3 separate regions of the Homo sapiens genome follow, and all the other regions are linked to region 1. The links come from fine-mapping of genetic effects on gene expression. A gene starts in region 1. Each other region holds a variant in brackets. All regions are shown on one strand. Distances are between the middles of the regions.

Region 1 (5,724 bases):
AATATTCAGAGTCAGGCTTTTGGGTGGGAGTCCATTCTGCCCCTTCATTTCTCTGCCCTGTCTCTTCTGCGGTGATATGACTGTCACCTCTTGGCCAGTTTTTTGTTCAACAGGTGAAAGTGAGTGGGCCCAGGAGGGACAATGAGCATTAATGAATCCATGTAAGGATCTAGGGACAAGAGAAGTGAAGGCTGGAGAAGGGACCACAGCCAGCAGAGGCCCATGCCTCCCTAGTCCTAGCTGGGCCTGACCAAATCCTCCAGATTTCTGAATACCTGGTTTCTGTTTGCTGCCTAGGATTCACAGGTTAGACAGTCCCTGAATAACCCCTGAAGAGTCCTTGCTGGCCATACTCCAGCCCCCGGTCCTATTTATTGTTACAGAATCCCAGAAGCTCTTCAATCTGATCAAGCAGGAAACAATTACTGTCAATGAATTCCCTGCCACTTTCCGTAGGCGTTTGGCGAATCTTCAGTGAGTCTCTTGTGGATGTGGCTCCAACATTCCTTTGCTGAATGTTTCCACTGCTGCTGTCCTTGTGGCAGCAGCAGAGGCTGGGGGCGGCTGTGACCCTCTCCTTCTCACATCGGGGAGTGTGGGTGGGCTGTGTACATAGGAAGTTCATGCTGAAGCTTAATTGAAATGAGCAAGTTGCTTCTGGGCCTCAAGAATAACAGCATTGATGTTCAGCTTAGATTTGAAAACCAAGTGCTTCAGGAAATTCAGTTCAGTTTTTGGTGGTTGATGTTTGGAAGTGTGATTGTATTTTTACTTCTCTTTCAGTATTATTTTTCCCCTTCCCTATAGCAACACAGATATAGCTGGGAGTCAAGAGACCATATCATAGTTATTACTCTCCCAACAGCATTCTGTGTCTGAACTAAGTCACTCTCTACCTCACTAAGCTGCAGTTTCACCTCCTGTAAAATGGGAACATGAACAGTAGATCTCACTGTGTTGTGGTGAGGTCGAAAGCAAAAGCGGCAATCGAGTGCTGCGCACAAGCAAGGCACAGCTGTTATTTCTTCCTTCATATCAGGCAGCACGCTACAATTCCTTAAAATAGCAAAGTTTTCCTTCCCTTTCTAACAGTTTTCACTTTGAATGAAAGGCTGGAGCTAGAACAACGTTATCCATTTGCACAAGGCGCCACAGCCCTGTGTGCCAGGCCAGGCAGCCCTGTGGCATTAACAGGGACAGTTAGATCAGAGTAAATACAACTGTGCCTGCAACCATTTTGCCATGGTTCATGTGCCTGCGCATCCAGATTCTACTGGGACAGGGGTGCTCCTGTGACTTCTTAGATTACTCTGCCCATCACAGATTACAATAGGCCTTTCCAGCTGTGCTGCAGGAAGCTAATTAAGAGGCTTTGCCTGCAGGGGTATGGTGGGGAAGTTGATCTAATATCTGGAACTCATAATCAAGAGCATCTGCATTTAAGAAAAAAACCCTGTTTTCCAGCTGGTCAGCACTCTTCTGGGCTCTGAAGGGAAAGAGGTTTGCTGTAAAGATGGCTCTTGATGGAAAGCCCTCAATACCTTTGAGGATCCTTCACTGTGGCTGTGCAGAGAGATGCCCTTACAGGTGACACTGTTGCAGGGCATGCTATAAGGATCTTCTCCTGACTTAGTGGCGAAGATACAGAAGAAATAGAACCCTCCTAGGCAAATTGAGGCACCCAAACATAACACAATTCATTGGCAGGAAAGGCAGAGAGACCAACGGAGAGGTGGGCAGAGATAATAAAAATGCCAGGTGCTTGCATTTTGATGTTGAGGCCTCATATCCCTCTCATCTTTCTGACATCCCCCCTCACTCTATTCTGCACACTGCCCAAGTCAAAGCTGATTCTCCCACTTCCAGAAAGACCCCAGGATATCCCCAGTATTCTCCTCTTTCCAGGAGGGTGTTGAGGTTGCAGCCAGGCCTGGTTTGATTTCACTCTGCAGGGTGGCCAGATGTGCTCCCAGCAGGCCCTCTCCGCCAGAGCCCCAAACTCCTGAAAGGCCTAGACCATAAAGCCACAAGTAGAGGAAACAAGAGCAACTATGCCCTACAAGGGGCAGCCTGTACCCGTACCCAGAGCACTCCTAGTGCAAGGAGCCAAGACTTTCAGGGCCTGTGAAGTCAACTCTATCACCCCCAACAATGAGTTTTGATTTGAGCACAGATCTGCCCAGTCTCTTGGAGGTTTGGGCATTGCTTGTGGGTGTGAACGCCAGACCCCGATGGTATTTAGGCTTCCTCTGAGGAGTCACTACAAGATTCTACTCATATATAGTTTTACCTAGTTATGAAAAAGAAGTTGGTGCAACCAGGTAGGCTGGAAGCTGCAGCAAAGCCTGGGTATTTGTGACGCAGGTATGGCCTGGTTTTTGAGGTAGAAATGTTGCCTGCCTCTGCCTGGGTCAGTATTAGGGCCACTATCAGACCAGACCTTCTGCTTGAGTTTGTCTCCTAAAGCCAACACATCTTCAGGGTCTCAAAGGAATTCCTGCAATGATAGTGTCCTACATTTACAAACCCAGCTATTACTTTAAGACAGACTCCAATCCTGGCTCCAGTGCACACTTCAGGACTGTGGGAAAGTGGAACCACTCAGGACTCAGTTTCCCCATTTGAACAGTGTGTGTGAGGGCCCAGTGCATTCTCCTGCTCTTCATCGGGCAGGACAAGAAGTGCCACATTGCCCTTGCTGTACCCAGAGAGCAGTGTCGGGTGCCAGCAGTGTCTGAGTGCAGGGCCTGGCCAGGAGCACAGGAGCCTGGGGCACCTTAGATGCTGCCACCGTGTGTGGCCCAGGTTCTTGTCTGGAGTCGCTGGCCGGGGGCCTGGCTGGGTTGGAATAGGTGTACTGCTGGGTGGGCTTTGCCCTTGGCACCCTCCCACGGTGATTATGGCCAAAGAGTTGCCATTTCCCCCTTTCTGCAGTGGCTGGGAGGAGAAGCTGAAAGCGCTGTCCGTCTCAGGCTCTTGGCCTGCGTCGAAAGTCTCTGGTCCACTTCCCCACTCCCTTCTACAAAGCGGCGGCCTCCCGCTTTCCCTCCATGGTCCTCCACCTCCCTCCCTCTCTCCTTCCACCGCGTGCAGGGCTGGTGTCCGAGCGCTCCATGCTGCAAGGTTTTTAGTTCGGGCTTTGTCCCCTGCGCCCCCAGCCCAGTTCAATGCCCCCAGCGGCTTGCGCTCCGAGCCCCGACTACCTGACCTTCCGCAGCCCCTGGCCAGGCGGCTCGGCTTACCCGTGCTGGCGGCCCCGGAGCCTGCTGTGCTGCAGCACCAGCTGGTAGGGCGACTTGGCGGGACCCGCCAGGGTCGCGGCGGGGCCCAGGGCCAGAGCCAGGGCGAGAGCCAGCAGCCGCACGAAGAGCGCCATGGAGCGGGACGACGCGCACCGAGCGAGCTAGCGACCGACGGGCAAGCGGGCGGCTCCAGGGAAGTGAGAGCGCCTCCGCCGCCCGGGCCAGGTTAAGTAAGCTGCGAGCGGGAGGGAGCGGACGCCAGGGGCGGGGAAGCTGGGCCGGCCCGTGCAAGGAGGGCGGGCCGCCTGGCGCCTCCCAACCCGTGCGCCCCTGGCTGCCCTGGGCACCCACCCGCTCCCGCACTGTGCCCGTGCTCAGTTTTCCCAGCCCTTGCCCTCACTGCCAGCCCTCCCTCCCTCTCTCCCTCGCCACAGTCTTCCTCAAACCAAGGGTATAGGTCCCTTAGGCCTCCTGTGGCTGCTTCCAAATGGGGACCTTGGGACTGAGGGACAGCTGTCTCGGGGGCTTCGGTCCTGCATGCTGGGGGCCCGAAGATTCCCTCACTGATCTTGAGGCTACAAAACACTGCAGGGAGGGGTGAGGGGAGGCAGTGCTGATTCCCAGAACACCATGGCCCATCAGACTTGTTTCTGCACCCCAGGAGCTGACCACCCTCCCCAGCTCCTCAATCTCTAATCCCTCCACCCCCACCCCACCTGTCATGCTCATTGAAAGACAGATGAGTAAATCGTGTGATCCACAGAAACGCCAAAAATGTGGGGCAGGTTTTGTTGGGCTCTAAGCTGCTTTTGGAGCCCGTGGGGAAGGGTGGGGTCCTCACCTTGGTACTAATTCATTCCCTTCTTCAGTAAACATCTCTGCAACAGTACCTGCCAGATAGATTCTGCAAAGGCAAGAGTCCTGCCCTGGAGGAGCTCAAGGCAGGTAAACAAATTGTCACATGGTAAAGAGGTGATACTTACCCAAGCATCTATTAATCACCTGTCAGTTACTTGGCACTGCTAGCCCTGGGGAGACACAGATGGATTAATAGAATGAGTGAGACCTAAGCCCTTTGTGAAAAAGCTCCAATTTGGGAAGATCCGTAGCCCAAGCCAATGATGTTCCATGAAGAGTAGCTGGGGCTTTGGGAGCTAAGAAGAGGCACCTGGCCCTGACAGGGTGATACCTGCTCTGAGGCCTGAAAGATGAAAATGAGTTAATCAGGTAAACTGAGGCATGCATTCACGAAACTCAAGTTATCTGGTTGGCTGAAGCACAGGGAGGTGGAGTCAAGGGTAGGGAAGAAGGGGAGGAAGGTAGCAGGGCCCAGACTCCAGCTAAGAGCCTAGCGGGTGATGGGTGGAGGCAAGTGACATGGCCAGTGTCATGAGAGGCTTAAGGAGGCAAGAAGAACAGGTAACCAGGAAGGGACCATGGGAGAGCTTGAACTATGGTGGTAGAGGCAGAGATGGGGAAGGCTGGGCAAATGTGAGGGGTGTAGGAGGTAATAGTCTCAATAGAATTTGGAGTCTGTATACAGGGAGAAGGGGAGAAAGGAGAGTCAAGGATATTGTAGGGTGTTTGTGGTCTGGACATTGCAGCAGGTGATGGTGCCATGTTCAGAATGAGGCACATGCAGAGTGCAGGCTTGCCAGGTAGATGAGTGGTTTGGGACACCCTGAGTCTGAGGTGCTTATGACTCATCCTGGTGAAGCATCCCATGAGGATAAAGCTGGATATGAGGATCGGGGGCTTGAGTGAGGGACGCGGGATGAAGATTCACACCTGGGAGTCATCCTCCAGTGACAGAAGAGCCCAGGAAGTAGAGAATGTGGGGTTGTAGTCAAGGAGGGGTATCCTAGTAGGAGGGCGCTGCTCAAAGTGAGGAATGCTGCCAACAAGACAGATCTGAATGGCTTTCACTGTGTCAGAAGCAGAGAGGCCACTGGGGACTTGGCTGTGGAGAGCAGATGGCCAAAGCCCGAATATGGTGGTTTGATGGAGAGATGAGTAGCATGTAGAAGCTTGTCTGAGAAGGGAAGGGGCGAGTTAGGATGGCAGCCAGGGAAAGAAAAAGACAAGCGGGGCTTGGAGAGGTTAGAACTCTGGTAGAAAGAAGGTGGGAAGGAGAAGGGAGAGAGTGTGGGCACTGGAGGAGGGCCTACTGAGAGCATAAAGCAACTGAGGGCCTGCATGGGGAGTGATCAAGCTAGTGGAGAGGAGGGAACAGGTGTATGGGAGATTTTAGTGGTAGCATTGATTAGACTTGGAAACCCCTTGGGCATGCAGGGTTAGGGAGGGGGAGTAGAGCTAACCTCGAGGCTCATAGCTGGCAGGAAGGGATGCCTGTGCTGGGCACGCTGGTGAAGGTGCACATTTGGGTGTGTGAGGAGAGTGCTCCATTTGTGTTCACATTATGTGTGAACAAGCCACCTGCATTTCCAGGAGGGATGGACAGGAGGGAGCTATATTCAAAGGT
Region 2 (5,724 bases), 950 kb before region 1:
ATATATATATATAAAATAAATCAGTTTTAGACTTTTAAATCACAGTTGTTTTACAATATGTTTTACTACCTGGTAGAACTGTCCTTTGCTGCCATTACTGTTTTTCTAGAATTTTCCTGGATATTAGTATGTTTCTTTCCCTGTGTGAACTTTAGCATCAGTTTATCCAATTAAAAACAATTCCTATTGGTAATTTTTAAGTATCAGGAAAAATTAATCAAATAAAAATCAATAGCTGTATAATATGGAATCATTTTGTTTTAGAACAGGATCTATCAACCCATGGTGTTAATTTTGAAATTTTGTTCTAACAATTATTATACTTCCCTTGTATTTATTATTGCTACCATTGTAACTGAAATAGGTGTTTTTTTGCACTATATTCCCTCCCTGGTGGTTTCAACATTAATTTTGTTCTCAACCACCTTACTAAAATCTTGCTTTGTTTCTAAGTTATTCTGGTTGGTTTGCTTAGATTTTTCGGGTGTGCAATCATATCATCTGCAAATAGTGATAATTTTTCTCTTCATTTTCAATTTTTATACCTCATTTTTCTTTTCTAATTACATCTGTTAGTACCTAAAATCAATGTTAAGATAATAGCCATTTAAAAATTTTAGTAGTGTAAATACTTGTAGTGATTCTCAGCATTAAGACTAGTGATAGTTTTAGGTTTGAGTTCGTATTGTAACATGTGATTTTTAGCATGGTTTCCTTACAACACAGAGCCTATGTGTTAATGCTTGCCTGGAGGTAACAGTGCCAGAGCTGGTCACCTGGCCACATGGGACATCTCTGGATAGACTGCCCTTACTCTTGCAGTTGCTGAAAGCCAGAACCCCTTCCTGTGGCACAGCATCCAGGAAATGCTACCTTTTATAATCCAGATGAAATTTGTTTCTCCTTTACTCTGAAAGCATCTTAAAACAAGAAGTCAACAAAATGTATTTTACAAGCAGTTTCTCTCATGGAACAAGCAGCAAGACCAGGTAGCATTGTGCAGTCTACAGGGTAAGAGTTGTAAATGGTTGCTTAGATACTTTATATGCAAGTGTGGGGCCTGCAGAAAGAGGCAGTATCAGCCAAAGATAAGAACTCAGAGAACCAGAACTCCTCTGCCAAGGACAGGATGAACCATGAACAAATAGCAGAACTCCCAGAGCCACAAGGTCTGCAAAGGCAAATCATGGTAAAACTCTGAAGAATGAATGAGGTCACTTTTCATTTTGCTTAGAATGAAACTAACTTCTTTTCTATGACATGCATTTTGCCGCTGAGGACCCAGAGGCTGGGACAGGTGAATTCAGCTAGGAGGTGGCAGAGCCTAGATACAAAGTCTCATCAGTGCTTCTCCAGATCTCTTCTGTATCTTCATAGTTGTCCCTCAAAGCCTATTTTACTTTCCTGGGGGTGGTGAGGTCTGAAGTAACCATTCCTATCCATCCTTTCCTACAGGAAAACCTAGGCTATATAAGTATTTGTCACCTCTGGTTAGTTCGTCTGTGGATTCAGAACACTTCCCCACTAATAAGCCTTGGCTGATTACTTGCTTCCTGATAGAAAGGAAAAAGTCCATTACACCACCTATTAGATACTTGGTATTTGCTTGAGTTGGTACTAGAAAGAAAAATTTCTATGCAATGCAAGTGGCCCCCAAATACTATTTTAAGTGCATTGTGGTATGAGGTTTGTTTTTTAACTAGTAACACTAATGGCCCGAATTTGTTTTCTTGCATAGTAACAGCATATGGAACAATTCCACTCCCAGGTGTGTCATTGTCTACATTTCACATCAAGAGTGAAGTCAATCATTAGCGATTATACTCCATACCATCTGGAAGCTGACTTTCAGAAATTATTTTTTAGGTCTCCCTTGCCAGAATGAAATGAACAGAATTCAGAAGCTGAGTAAGGGGAAAAGCCTGTTGGGTAAGTACAATTTCTTGCCACTCATTTAAACAACTAATTAAGCCAGCCATGTCCCTTGTAATGATCAGCATGGCAATGGTTATTCAATTAGGGCTAGTGTTTCATGAAAGAAATGCCTTGTTTTAACCCCAGGCAGAGCTCTTCCAGGCAGCTGGACATAAACAGAGGACTGGCTGGTTGAAAACTGCTGTGTGTTCCTTCGGCAGGAAGAGAGGTCAGCCAGGGCCGAAGTCCAGCACCTTCCCCACTGCTAACTCCTCCCTGATCTTAGGCTAAAACAAATCTTGGCTTTTTCTAAGTAAGATCATTGAATGGTGCTCTCAAGTGCTCAAACTATAAGGTCTAAAAATTATAGCATTTCCTCCATTCCCCGGATAGGATTGTCTGTTGAAGGAGGCAGATGGGCTGTACTCTCTTCAGAATTTATCAAACAGGGTTGAACGACATGTATGTGCTTAAGCCTATTTCTACCTTCACCTAATCCCTCCAGGAAAGTATGCAGGCTGTTTGGACACCACGGAAGCAAGTGGGTTGAGTGAATGTGTGTTCCCCTAACATGCACAACTTGCAGTCCTCTCAAAGTGTCCCCTTTAGCTCCAAGCCTGCCTTTCTCCAGCACGTGGAGGAAGTCCTGGCATTTGTCATAGAAACACTGGCCATTCTCATTGGTTTGCTGAAGAAAGGAGGAGCCTGCTTTGCTTTCCTTGCTTTTAAAAAAAGAGGTGTCAGCTGCAACACAGTAATACAGAATTATT[C/TAATACAGAATTATTC]CCGTGAAGCATTCAGAGGCAGATGCATTCCCCAAGCAGCCTGCCATTTCAGAAGTTTCTCTATTCATTTGAAGGAAATGAATAGAGAAGGAAATGGGCAAGTTTTCTTGCAGATTGTCAAATGTAGGCAGTCTATGAATTCCGGTGATTTTCTTCTCTTAGGATTTTTTGAGTTATTTCAAAATGCATGTAGACTTCCCCAAAGTTGTCAGGATTTCGAACTCTTTAGGCCTACATTCTTCTGCTGAGTAAAAGGACATAAAGATATATTTCTGGTCTGAAGGCAAAGTGGCTGGATCCCTCCTCCATAGGATTTTCTAGTGCAAAGACTTGTGTTTGTTTATTGATCTCATTTCTCCATGTGGGATATTATTTTGAGTGACGTACCTATGATCTGCAGGTAGTTGTAGAATTAGTACATTGCTGTTTATTAAAACATACATTGCCTCATTGGTAAGGGTCACCTGTGATAAGATGTCTCATTTACCCCAGTGCACATGAATGAAATGCCTACCTTTCTGTTAAAATAAATCCCATTTTGTTTTAAAGCTTGCTTTATCACATTTCCCACATATGGAGATTACTCCAGCTGACTCAGAAAAAATGCCATTTGCTTACAAATTCTTTATGTAGTCAGGGGTATACAGAGTCAAATAAATAAAACAATCAACAAATTATTATCAGCTATAATTATTGCATTGTAGTTTTAGAGCAGCACCTGCTTCTTACCAACCCAGGGCCTCAGCCCATTTTTTTTTTTTTTTTGGTCCAAGGAGGAGCCAGCTCTCTACATGTTCACTTTCTCTGCAGTCCTTGATTGAGAATCTGTTCACAAATCTCTTTTTGGGCTACTGACCGCATCTACATTTTCCTTCTTTTCTATCTACTGTTCTTTGAAAACTGATAGCATGCAATGGCGTACACTCCTTAATGAGAGGGTGGATACCACTAAGCTTCTAACTGTGGCATCAGCAGCCTTTCCTAAGTGATAGACATGGTGTTCCATGGTCTCATTTAATCTCTGAGAATATGATCATCTTGGTATAGCCTGGTGAGTAGCATGTTCTAGACTAGACCCTAGAGTCACCTGGGTCTGGGTTGAAGTCTTGGTTCAAAATAGGAGAAATCTGTCCCTCCCATGCCACACTTTTATTCTGGGATTGTTCCACTAAATAAAAGGCAAATTTGAAAATGTAAGCACGCTCACAAAATCAGAAATTAAATTAGGGCATAGAAAGCTACAGTGGAAGGCAGGAACCTCTGTTTTCAGGAGGCTGATGTAGATGGTGTTACCACCCAGGTTACACAAAGAGGAAGAATTCTTCCATAGAAGATGCACACTATCAAGAAACACACCTACCCTGTAAGGAAAACCAAAACTAAAAACTATTATAAATAAAGATTACCCACAGTACAATGAGAATCAGTATCTTCAAAGTGCCAAGGGGAAATAATTATGAACCTACAATTTAAAATTTATCCCAGTGATCATTCAAGTGTGATGACAGAGGTACTCTGGTACTCTGAAACCATCTAAGATTCAGTCAGCTTACTAACCCCAGACTCACTTAAATATCACTAAAGGATTTATTCTACCAAACAAATGATCCCAGAAAGAACTATTCAGATGCAATAATGAAAAAGAAATGACAATTCTGCTAAGACCAATAAAAATAGTTATATGGCAACCTGGAATTAAAATTCCAGACAATTGGGGGAAGTGAGAAAAAGGTGGTAAGAATGTGTTAAGCTTCTAGTTTGTTCATGAAAAAAAAAATCTGTATAGATTAACTGTAGATTTTACTAGGAAAAACTATGTTCCCCTGTGGAAAATATGAGTAACCACAAGAATATTAGAATATATGTTTTAAACCTATGGAAAAAAGACAAGGTATAAAGAAAACTTAGTAAGTAGGAAACAGATATGGTGGCAGAAATAAGAGTAAGCATTTCTGTAATCACAATATCTGTAATCACAATAAATGTGAACAGGTCAAACACATTTATTATTATTGATTAGTATTTTAAAGGAGAGTTATACAAAAATAATTCCACAGAAAGTTGAAATTAAATGAGGGTAAATACTCTTTTTTAAACAACATTAATATCTGACAAAGCAAATCTGTTTTTTATAATGCAATCATCTCGCTGAAATATCCCTTTTACCATATTATGCCATCAGTTGCTCTATAGACATGCCTTGCTTAATGACAGGGATAGGTTCTGAGAAATGTGTCATTAGGTGACTTTGTCATTGTGTAAACATCATAGAGTATACTCACACAGACCTAGATGGTATAGCCTATTGCTCCTAGGTATAAACCTGTACACCATTTTATCGTACTGAATACTACAGGCAATTGTAACACAATGGGAATTATTTTTATATCTAAACATAGAAAAGGCTAGTGAAAATATGGTGTTATAATGTTATGGAACCATTGTCACATATACAGTCTATTGTTGACTAAAACATCATTATGTGGCACATGACTATACTCATAACTTAAAATGGAATAGAACTGTAAGGGCGAATTATAGCCACAGTGGTTTTCAGAAACTTTGACATACCACTTCCTGAAACCTACAGTTCAAGTAGACTAAGATTTGTTAGCATTCATGCTTATATATGTATTCCTGAATCTAGGCATTGAATGTAGTCTTTCAAACATCTGCCACAGACCGTACCACAGAAGAAAACAAATTTCAAATAAATGATCACAGATCAAACTTACCGGCCACAACACAATACCAATAGAAGTAAAATATGAGATTACTAAACCCCCATACATTTGGTTTCATGAATAAAAATTGATCAAAGATGAAGAAAGAAAAATCTACAAAATATCTAGAAATGAAAGAAAATGAAAGCATGGTGTACCAAATACATGGGAAGCAACTAAGTGAAACTTCATAGCGTCAAATGCATTTATAAAAAAGGATCAAAATAAAATTAACTAGATGTAACTTAAACTATAGGAACAACACAAAGTGAATAAGATGAAAGCAGACAACAGTGAAGTAAAAATATTAAAATACC
Region 3 (5,724 bases), 130 kb after region 1:
CAGAAGTGGACATTCTTAAACGTGACTAATGGGATTATTATAAATTATAAATTCTATTATTATATGTTAGAACATATTTCTGGAGGACAGTTTGGCAAAACGTATTGAGAGTGAAAGGGTTGCAAATACTTGACCATTCATTCCAAATGTAGGATTTATATTGTCATGAGTGGACGTGAGCCCTGGAACTGGGCAGTCATCTTATAGCCCCAAGGGGAGGGAAGTCAACCCACAGAGTGGCAAAGCAGCCTGTCCACAAGATCTCAGAGCTGCAGATCCGACCACCCCAGGACCCACCGTATCCACAGATGCAGTGTTTTGTGAGATGGCAAATTTCCTTATCACTCCAGTCAGTGTTAACTGGGGTTTTGTGATTTGTGGTCAATGCAATCTTGATGACACAGGGCTCTGTCCTTCCGTTCAGAACTTCTAGCCTCATCTTCCACTTCTTCCCAACAGCCACTTCTGCAGTAGTCAGGCTGCTTCCAACCCTGTCAACACCTTGATTTGCACTTCTGGTTCCAAGATTGTGCGAGAATAAATTTCCGTGGCTTTAAGTCTCCCAGTTTGTATACTTTGTGATGGCAGCCCCAGGACACAGATATAGCTGAGGCCTAGAATCCACCTCCCTCTTCCCCAAAGGCATACTTTGATTTTCTGCTTGTATTAAGTAGACTTGGAGTACAGCCTATAGAGTATCGGTCAACAGAAGTGGAGATTGATTTATGGCCTTGCAGATAAGAACACAGGCTCTGGGGTCTGGTAAATCTCATTCAAGTTGCCAGCTGTGTGTCTATGGCAACTCTCCTAGCTTCTCTGAGCTTCCATTTGGATATCTACAAATAGGGTTAATAAAGATTGTTGAGGGGGCTGAGTGAGATGATATATATAAAGTGCTTAATAAGTTATCTTGTGCACAGGAAGATTTAACAAATTCTAATGCCTTAAGGCTCCAGTGTAATCCAGAACAACAGTTCTCATCCTCCCTTAATTAGATGGACATCAATGAATTGGCCACAGCAAAGGGTGGGGAGTTGGGGGAGTCCCATAGTCTCTGAGAAATACAGGGGCATGTCTCAAGTAATGGTGGACTATGCCAATGGGAGGATGTGAAATTCCATTTACAAGGATAGCCCAGATTGTTATTAACCAACAACAGTGAGGAAAGAGAAGTGAGAGGAAGGAGGAAAGAAATAGATCCTAGGTCTTGGAGCTCAGAGAAAACTGTGTGGGGCCACACAGGGAACAGTAGCTTCCAAGGGCAGCAGACACAGGGTTTGCTCAGGCAGGATGTGAGGGAAGGGGTCCTGGGTTCCCCTTCCACGGAGAGAAGACCCAACCGAAGGACAGCATCACCAGTGGGGCTTACCCCATCATGCTTACTTAGAAAGTAGTGATCTAGAAATAACTACTTGATTAGGAAATTAGCACTTGAGGATTCTCATAACTAGTTACCTCTTGGCTGCTTGGAGTAAAAGGCAGAACAGGTTTTACTTGGAAATGCAGTGCCTTTTTTTTTTTTTTTTGGTCATTTTATGCTGTGCCTTCCTAGAACACATAACCATTTTGTTTTATTCCTAGAGAAATAATCCATGACATATGAGCTTTTATCACAAAATAAAAACATCAAACTTTATCTTTGGAACAAAATAAATGGTTGATCATTGTCTTTTGTCATTTATTGTAAAATATGTTATCTATGATAACTCTTGGTATGCATCTCACTCTAATCTTGATATTTAAAATAGGTGAGTAATTGATTTCTGAGCGTGGTGTATTTGCTCTGTAGCTTATATGCATACTTACATTTTGATACTGAAAGAAATCCTAGGAGTTAAACCTCAAAAGTCATAGACTTTGCCTAGATAAACATCTGCTGTTTTAATGGTATTTTGAACTGCAGAGCTACCGTTTAACAACCCTGTATTCTTTTCTTTTTTATAACTGAGTGGGTGGGGAAATGGGAAAGAATTCTAAAGAACCAGTCACCTCACCTGTCTCCTTCTCTCTGTTTCATCCTTTGCAGAGGAGCTCCTGCACCACGCATGCCTTCCTCATGCAGTTAGTATAAGAGTCCAAAGAAAGAAGCGGTTGAAAAGCACTTCAGAAATTCTCAAACCCTGCACCAATGTAAGGAACTACAGAACTGCAGGAGGCTTTACTCCCTTGTTGGTTAATCACTTTTCAAATGTGTTCCTTGTTCAGGTAAATGTGACATCTGCTTTTTGTTTGTTACCTGTCTACTGGGAACCATGTGTTGGTCATTTCATCAGTAACACAAATTTAATAAATGTTCACAAAATTAAATGTATTAGTCATTTATTCATTTAACCAGGAATTCCTGAGCACTCTGTATAGACTATGCCCTGGGAATAGTGATGAGCAAGAGAGTCCGTTGTAGTGTCCATTGTCATGGAACTGACATTCTCCTGGGAGAACCAGACACTGAAAGAGGCACAGGCAGATGGCAGTGATTGCTATGGTCAGAGAAGGTCTTGCTGAGGAGGTTGTAGTTGAGCTGAAAACTAAATGATGAGAACAGGTCACGTAGGGAGGAGCTGAGGAAGGAGCCAGCAGGCCAAGCTTAGCAAGGGTAAAGGCCTGGAGGATGGAAATGAAAAGAAACTGATGTGACGGGAGGGTAGTAATGAGGGGGTATCAAAGAGCGAGGCACCTGGACCAGACCAGACCACATTTCCAAACAGAAACATGCCTCATTCCTGAGAGTATATCCCAAATGGAGCACTCCTCTCTTTCATGAGGAAGGGCTGGGTGAAGGCTTACATTCCTTTCTCTAAGTGAGTGAGCACTGGGGGTGCATTGGTGCATGGAAAGGGTAAGTAACCTGCCCAAGGAACACCAGTGGCCATGGA[T/C]CACTTGACCCTGAGCCAGCTCCTGAGGGTAGCAGGGAAGGTGGGTGACCCAAGGCCTGCTGGTCAAGCCAAGACTTAACTTGTTAATTCATTCACTTTTCTCCTAACTTCAAAATGTGGGACTTTTCCTAGTAAACCAGAGCCTGCCTGAGATATCTTTGCTGCAGCTACCGGGTTTCATTGAGAGAAGATCTTTGGTTCATTGGACCAGCGAGCTCACTCCACAAAAAGCCTCAGGAAATGGCAGGCCCCCAACACTTCGGATAATCTGGCAGTCTGTGGCCCAGGTCCCCTGCTCCCTTCCCTCTGTACAGATACCTGACCTAAATAACCAGATGGGGAAAGGGAGAAGAGACACCTGAGCAACCAACCCCTAGCTCTACCCTTCCCAGGACTGGAGGATAATAGTTGATGTCTTCAGAAAATGTGGGGTGGGGTGTGGGAACTCAGCCAGGGGGTGGCCAACTTTTCCTGTAAAGGGGCCAGATAATAAATGTTTAGGCTTTACGGGCTACATACGGTCTCTATCACACATGCTTGTTTTTATTTGTTAATTATTTCTTTATAAACTTTAACCCTCTGAACCCTTAAAAAGGTAAACACTGTTCTTAGCTTGTAGACCTTACCTTCAACCTGAAAAGTGGATTACAGTTTGTTGACCGCTAACCTCGGCTGCTTTGCCCTAACAAACTTCAAACCGGATGCCACTTAAACCAAGTTAGGGATGGAGCAGCTGTTTCTTTTAATCTCTATGGGAGTACCCTGAGGGGAGCCTTCACTGACAACTGCATCCCTAGATCCCCATTCCCACTTTCCACATCACCATCCTCACTTACGAGTGAGTGAGAACTGACAACTGCAACTGCATCCCTAGATCCCCATTCCCACTTTCCACATCACCATCCTCACTTACGGTCAGGAAATGGAAGCTGGGAGAGGCCAAGCAATCCCCCAAGGCCATGGAGCTAGCAAGTGATAGAGGCAGGACTTGAACTCAGGCATTCTGATTCTAGAGTCACCGGTCTTAACCACTGCACTGTACTATCCCCTGCTAGAAACTAGAGCTGTGGCTTTCTCTTCTTGGGCAAAGCCCCCATCTGTACAACAGGAGGGGTGGGGTGGTGTTTTCCTCAATATGAAAGGCATACCCGATGGCAGGTGAAATGATTTCCACGGTTCACACAGAGAGCATCAGATAATATTGATTCACAGAATGAAAAGATGATTGCCTTTTCACATCTCTCTCAAGTCTTCCAATAATGTCAGGGAAGGAGGTTTAGTCTGATGGTAATGTATCTTTAAAATCTCTCCAAAGCATGCTAATTTTCTTTTCTTTTCTTTTTAAACAAGAACAGGTTTTATAACTCAGGATCCTCAGTAGGCAGTGATAGCTAGCTAGAATTTTAGTATCACTGTTGTACTATTATTATTACTTCTCTTGTTAGTCTCATGGTTTTATTTTTTATTGCCTTTCTGAATATTTGCTATTTATGAAAAATGTTAGTGTTGCCATTGCTGTAATTCTCTTGTCCATTTCTTCATAGTTATAATATTGCTGCTGAAGCTCCTGCCATCACACCCAAATTGGAATTAAGGGGAAAGACAGGGTTCAGCCACTTTTGTCTCCTATTACCAGGAAAGCAAAATAATTTTACATACTTTGCATTGATCGAAACATGCTGCATGGCTACATGTAGCAGCAAAAGAGGCTGAAAATGTGGGTGTTTGGCTGGATACATTGGTACCCCAAACTAATCAGAATTCTACCATCAAGAAAAAGGCATACATCCAGTGCTTTGTAACAAAAGTGTTTGCCACAGGCTGGGAATCCTTTGAGTTTTCTCTTCAGTGTCTGCAAAGAGCAGGGATGGAAGTCAGAGATGTGGGATGGCTTAAGGGAATTTAGCAAAACACCTGTTTCTCTTTACCTTGTTTACCACCAAGACACTCCCTTCCCCATAGTGCAGTGGAACACTGACGAGCCATCATCACTCCTAAGAAACAATACAAAATGAAAAAAAACAGTATTGCCATACTCTTACAGTGGAGGCGAGGAAATCTTATGAGTTTGTCCCCACTGGCTATTATAGTTCAGAGTGCTAAGCTAAAGAACCCCTCACCTTTTCAATCTACTGTGTAGAAGCTATATTTACTTACCTGCACATACCTCCAAATATGTATCCTAGAAATCAGATTTGAAATCTTATAAATCCCAGAAGTAGGAAGTTCGTATTTCAAGAACTACTTTTCAAATTAGTGTTTTAATTCAACAAGCATTTAGTGAGTGCCCACAGTTCCCCAGGCACCTCCTTAAGTGCTGAGAATATAGGGGTGAACTGGACCCATAAAGCCCTGGAGTATATATCCTGGTGGGAGAGGCAGATAAAAGATCTGCAGAAAAACAGGAGTTCAGGAGGATTAAGAGCTGAAATCAGGAGGCAGACTTCTGGGCTTGAATACAAATTCTGCGGCTTCCTGGCTTTGTGGTTTTGGGCAAATTACCTGCCTCTCTATGCCTCAGTTTCTCCATCTGTAAGATAATAAGAATAATTATAGTACTTCATAGAGTTACACTGAGATTGCTTTTTTGACTCATAGTGATTAAACACAGCCATACTGAAGGGCCAGGAAGCTAAGATGTAGACAGTGTTTTAAAGGGTAAAAAATGGTGATGACAAATTACTCCCCACCTCATTTGGCAGCCGAGTGTATTACATGGCTTAATGCATGTAAAGTACTTAGAAATGTTGCTAGTATGGTCAGGCCCAGTGGCTCATGCCTGTAATCCCAGAACTTTGGGAGGCCAAGGCGGGCGGATCACGAGGTCAGGAGTTCAAGACCAGCCTGGCCA

Which allele goes with the higher level. Alleles are on the strand shown, and positions count from the first base shown. SD is a standard deviation of normalised expression in the study named. Not every link is listed here.
With allele C in place of TAATACAGAATTATTC in region 2, the expression in liver of the gene that starts at base 3,444 in region 1 is lower (small effect, 0.26 SD a copy in GTEx).

What was found. PIP is the estimated chance that this variant, and not a neighbour inherited with it, causes the effect.
Region 2: its variant is the best candidate, but not a certain one, in a credible set for the expression of TGFBI in liver (GTEx, PIP 0.65).
Region 3: its variant is the best candidate, but not a certain one, in a credible set for the expression of TGFBI in whole blood (INTERVAL, PIP 0.62).

Annotation. Positions count from the first base shown.
Region 1 is chr5:136,026,708-136,032,431 of GRCh38, reverse strand. It overlaps TGFBI (transforming growth factor beta induced), which reads right to left and starts at 3,444. Exons shown (of 17, transcript NM_000358.3): 1 at 3,243-3,444. The coding sequence starts at 3,376. RefSeq lists an enhancer at 1,158-1,227.
Region 2 is chr5:136,981,345-136,987,068 of GRCh38, reverse strand. SPOCK1 (SPARC (osteonectin), cwcv and kazal like domains proteoglycan 1) reads left to right here. Exons shown (of 11, transcript NM_004598.4): 9 at 1,867-1,929. Among named protein-coding and RNA genes, the nearest start is that of CTB-1I21.1, 250 kb to the right of the region's middle. The variant C/TAATACAGAATTATTC (reference allele first, on the strand shown) is at 2,685.
Region 3 is chr5:135,896,829-135,902,552 of GRCh38, reverse strand. No RefSeq gene overlaps it. Among named protein-coding and RNA genes, the nearest start is that of IL9, 3.8 kb to the right of the region's middle. The variant T/C (reference allele first, on the strand shown) is at 2,874.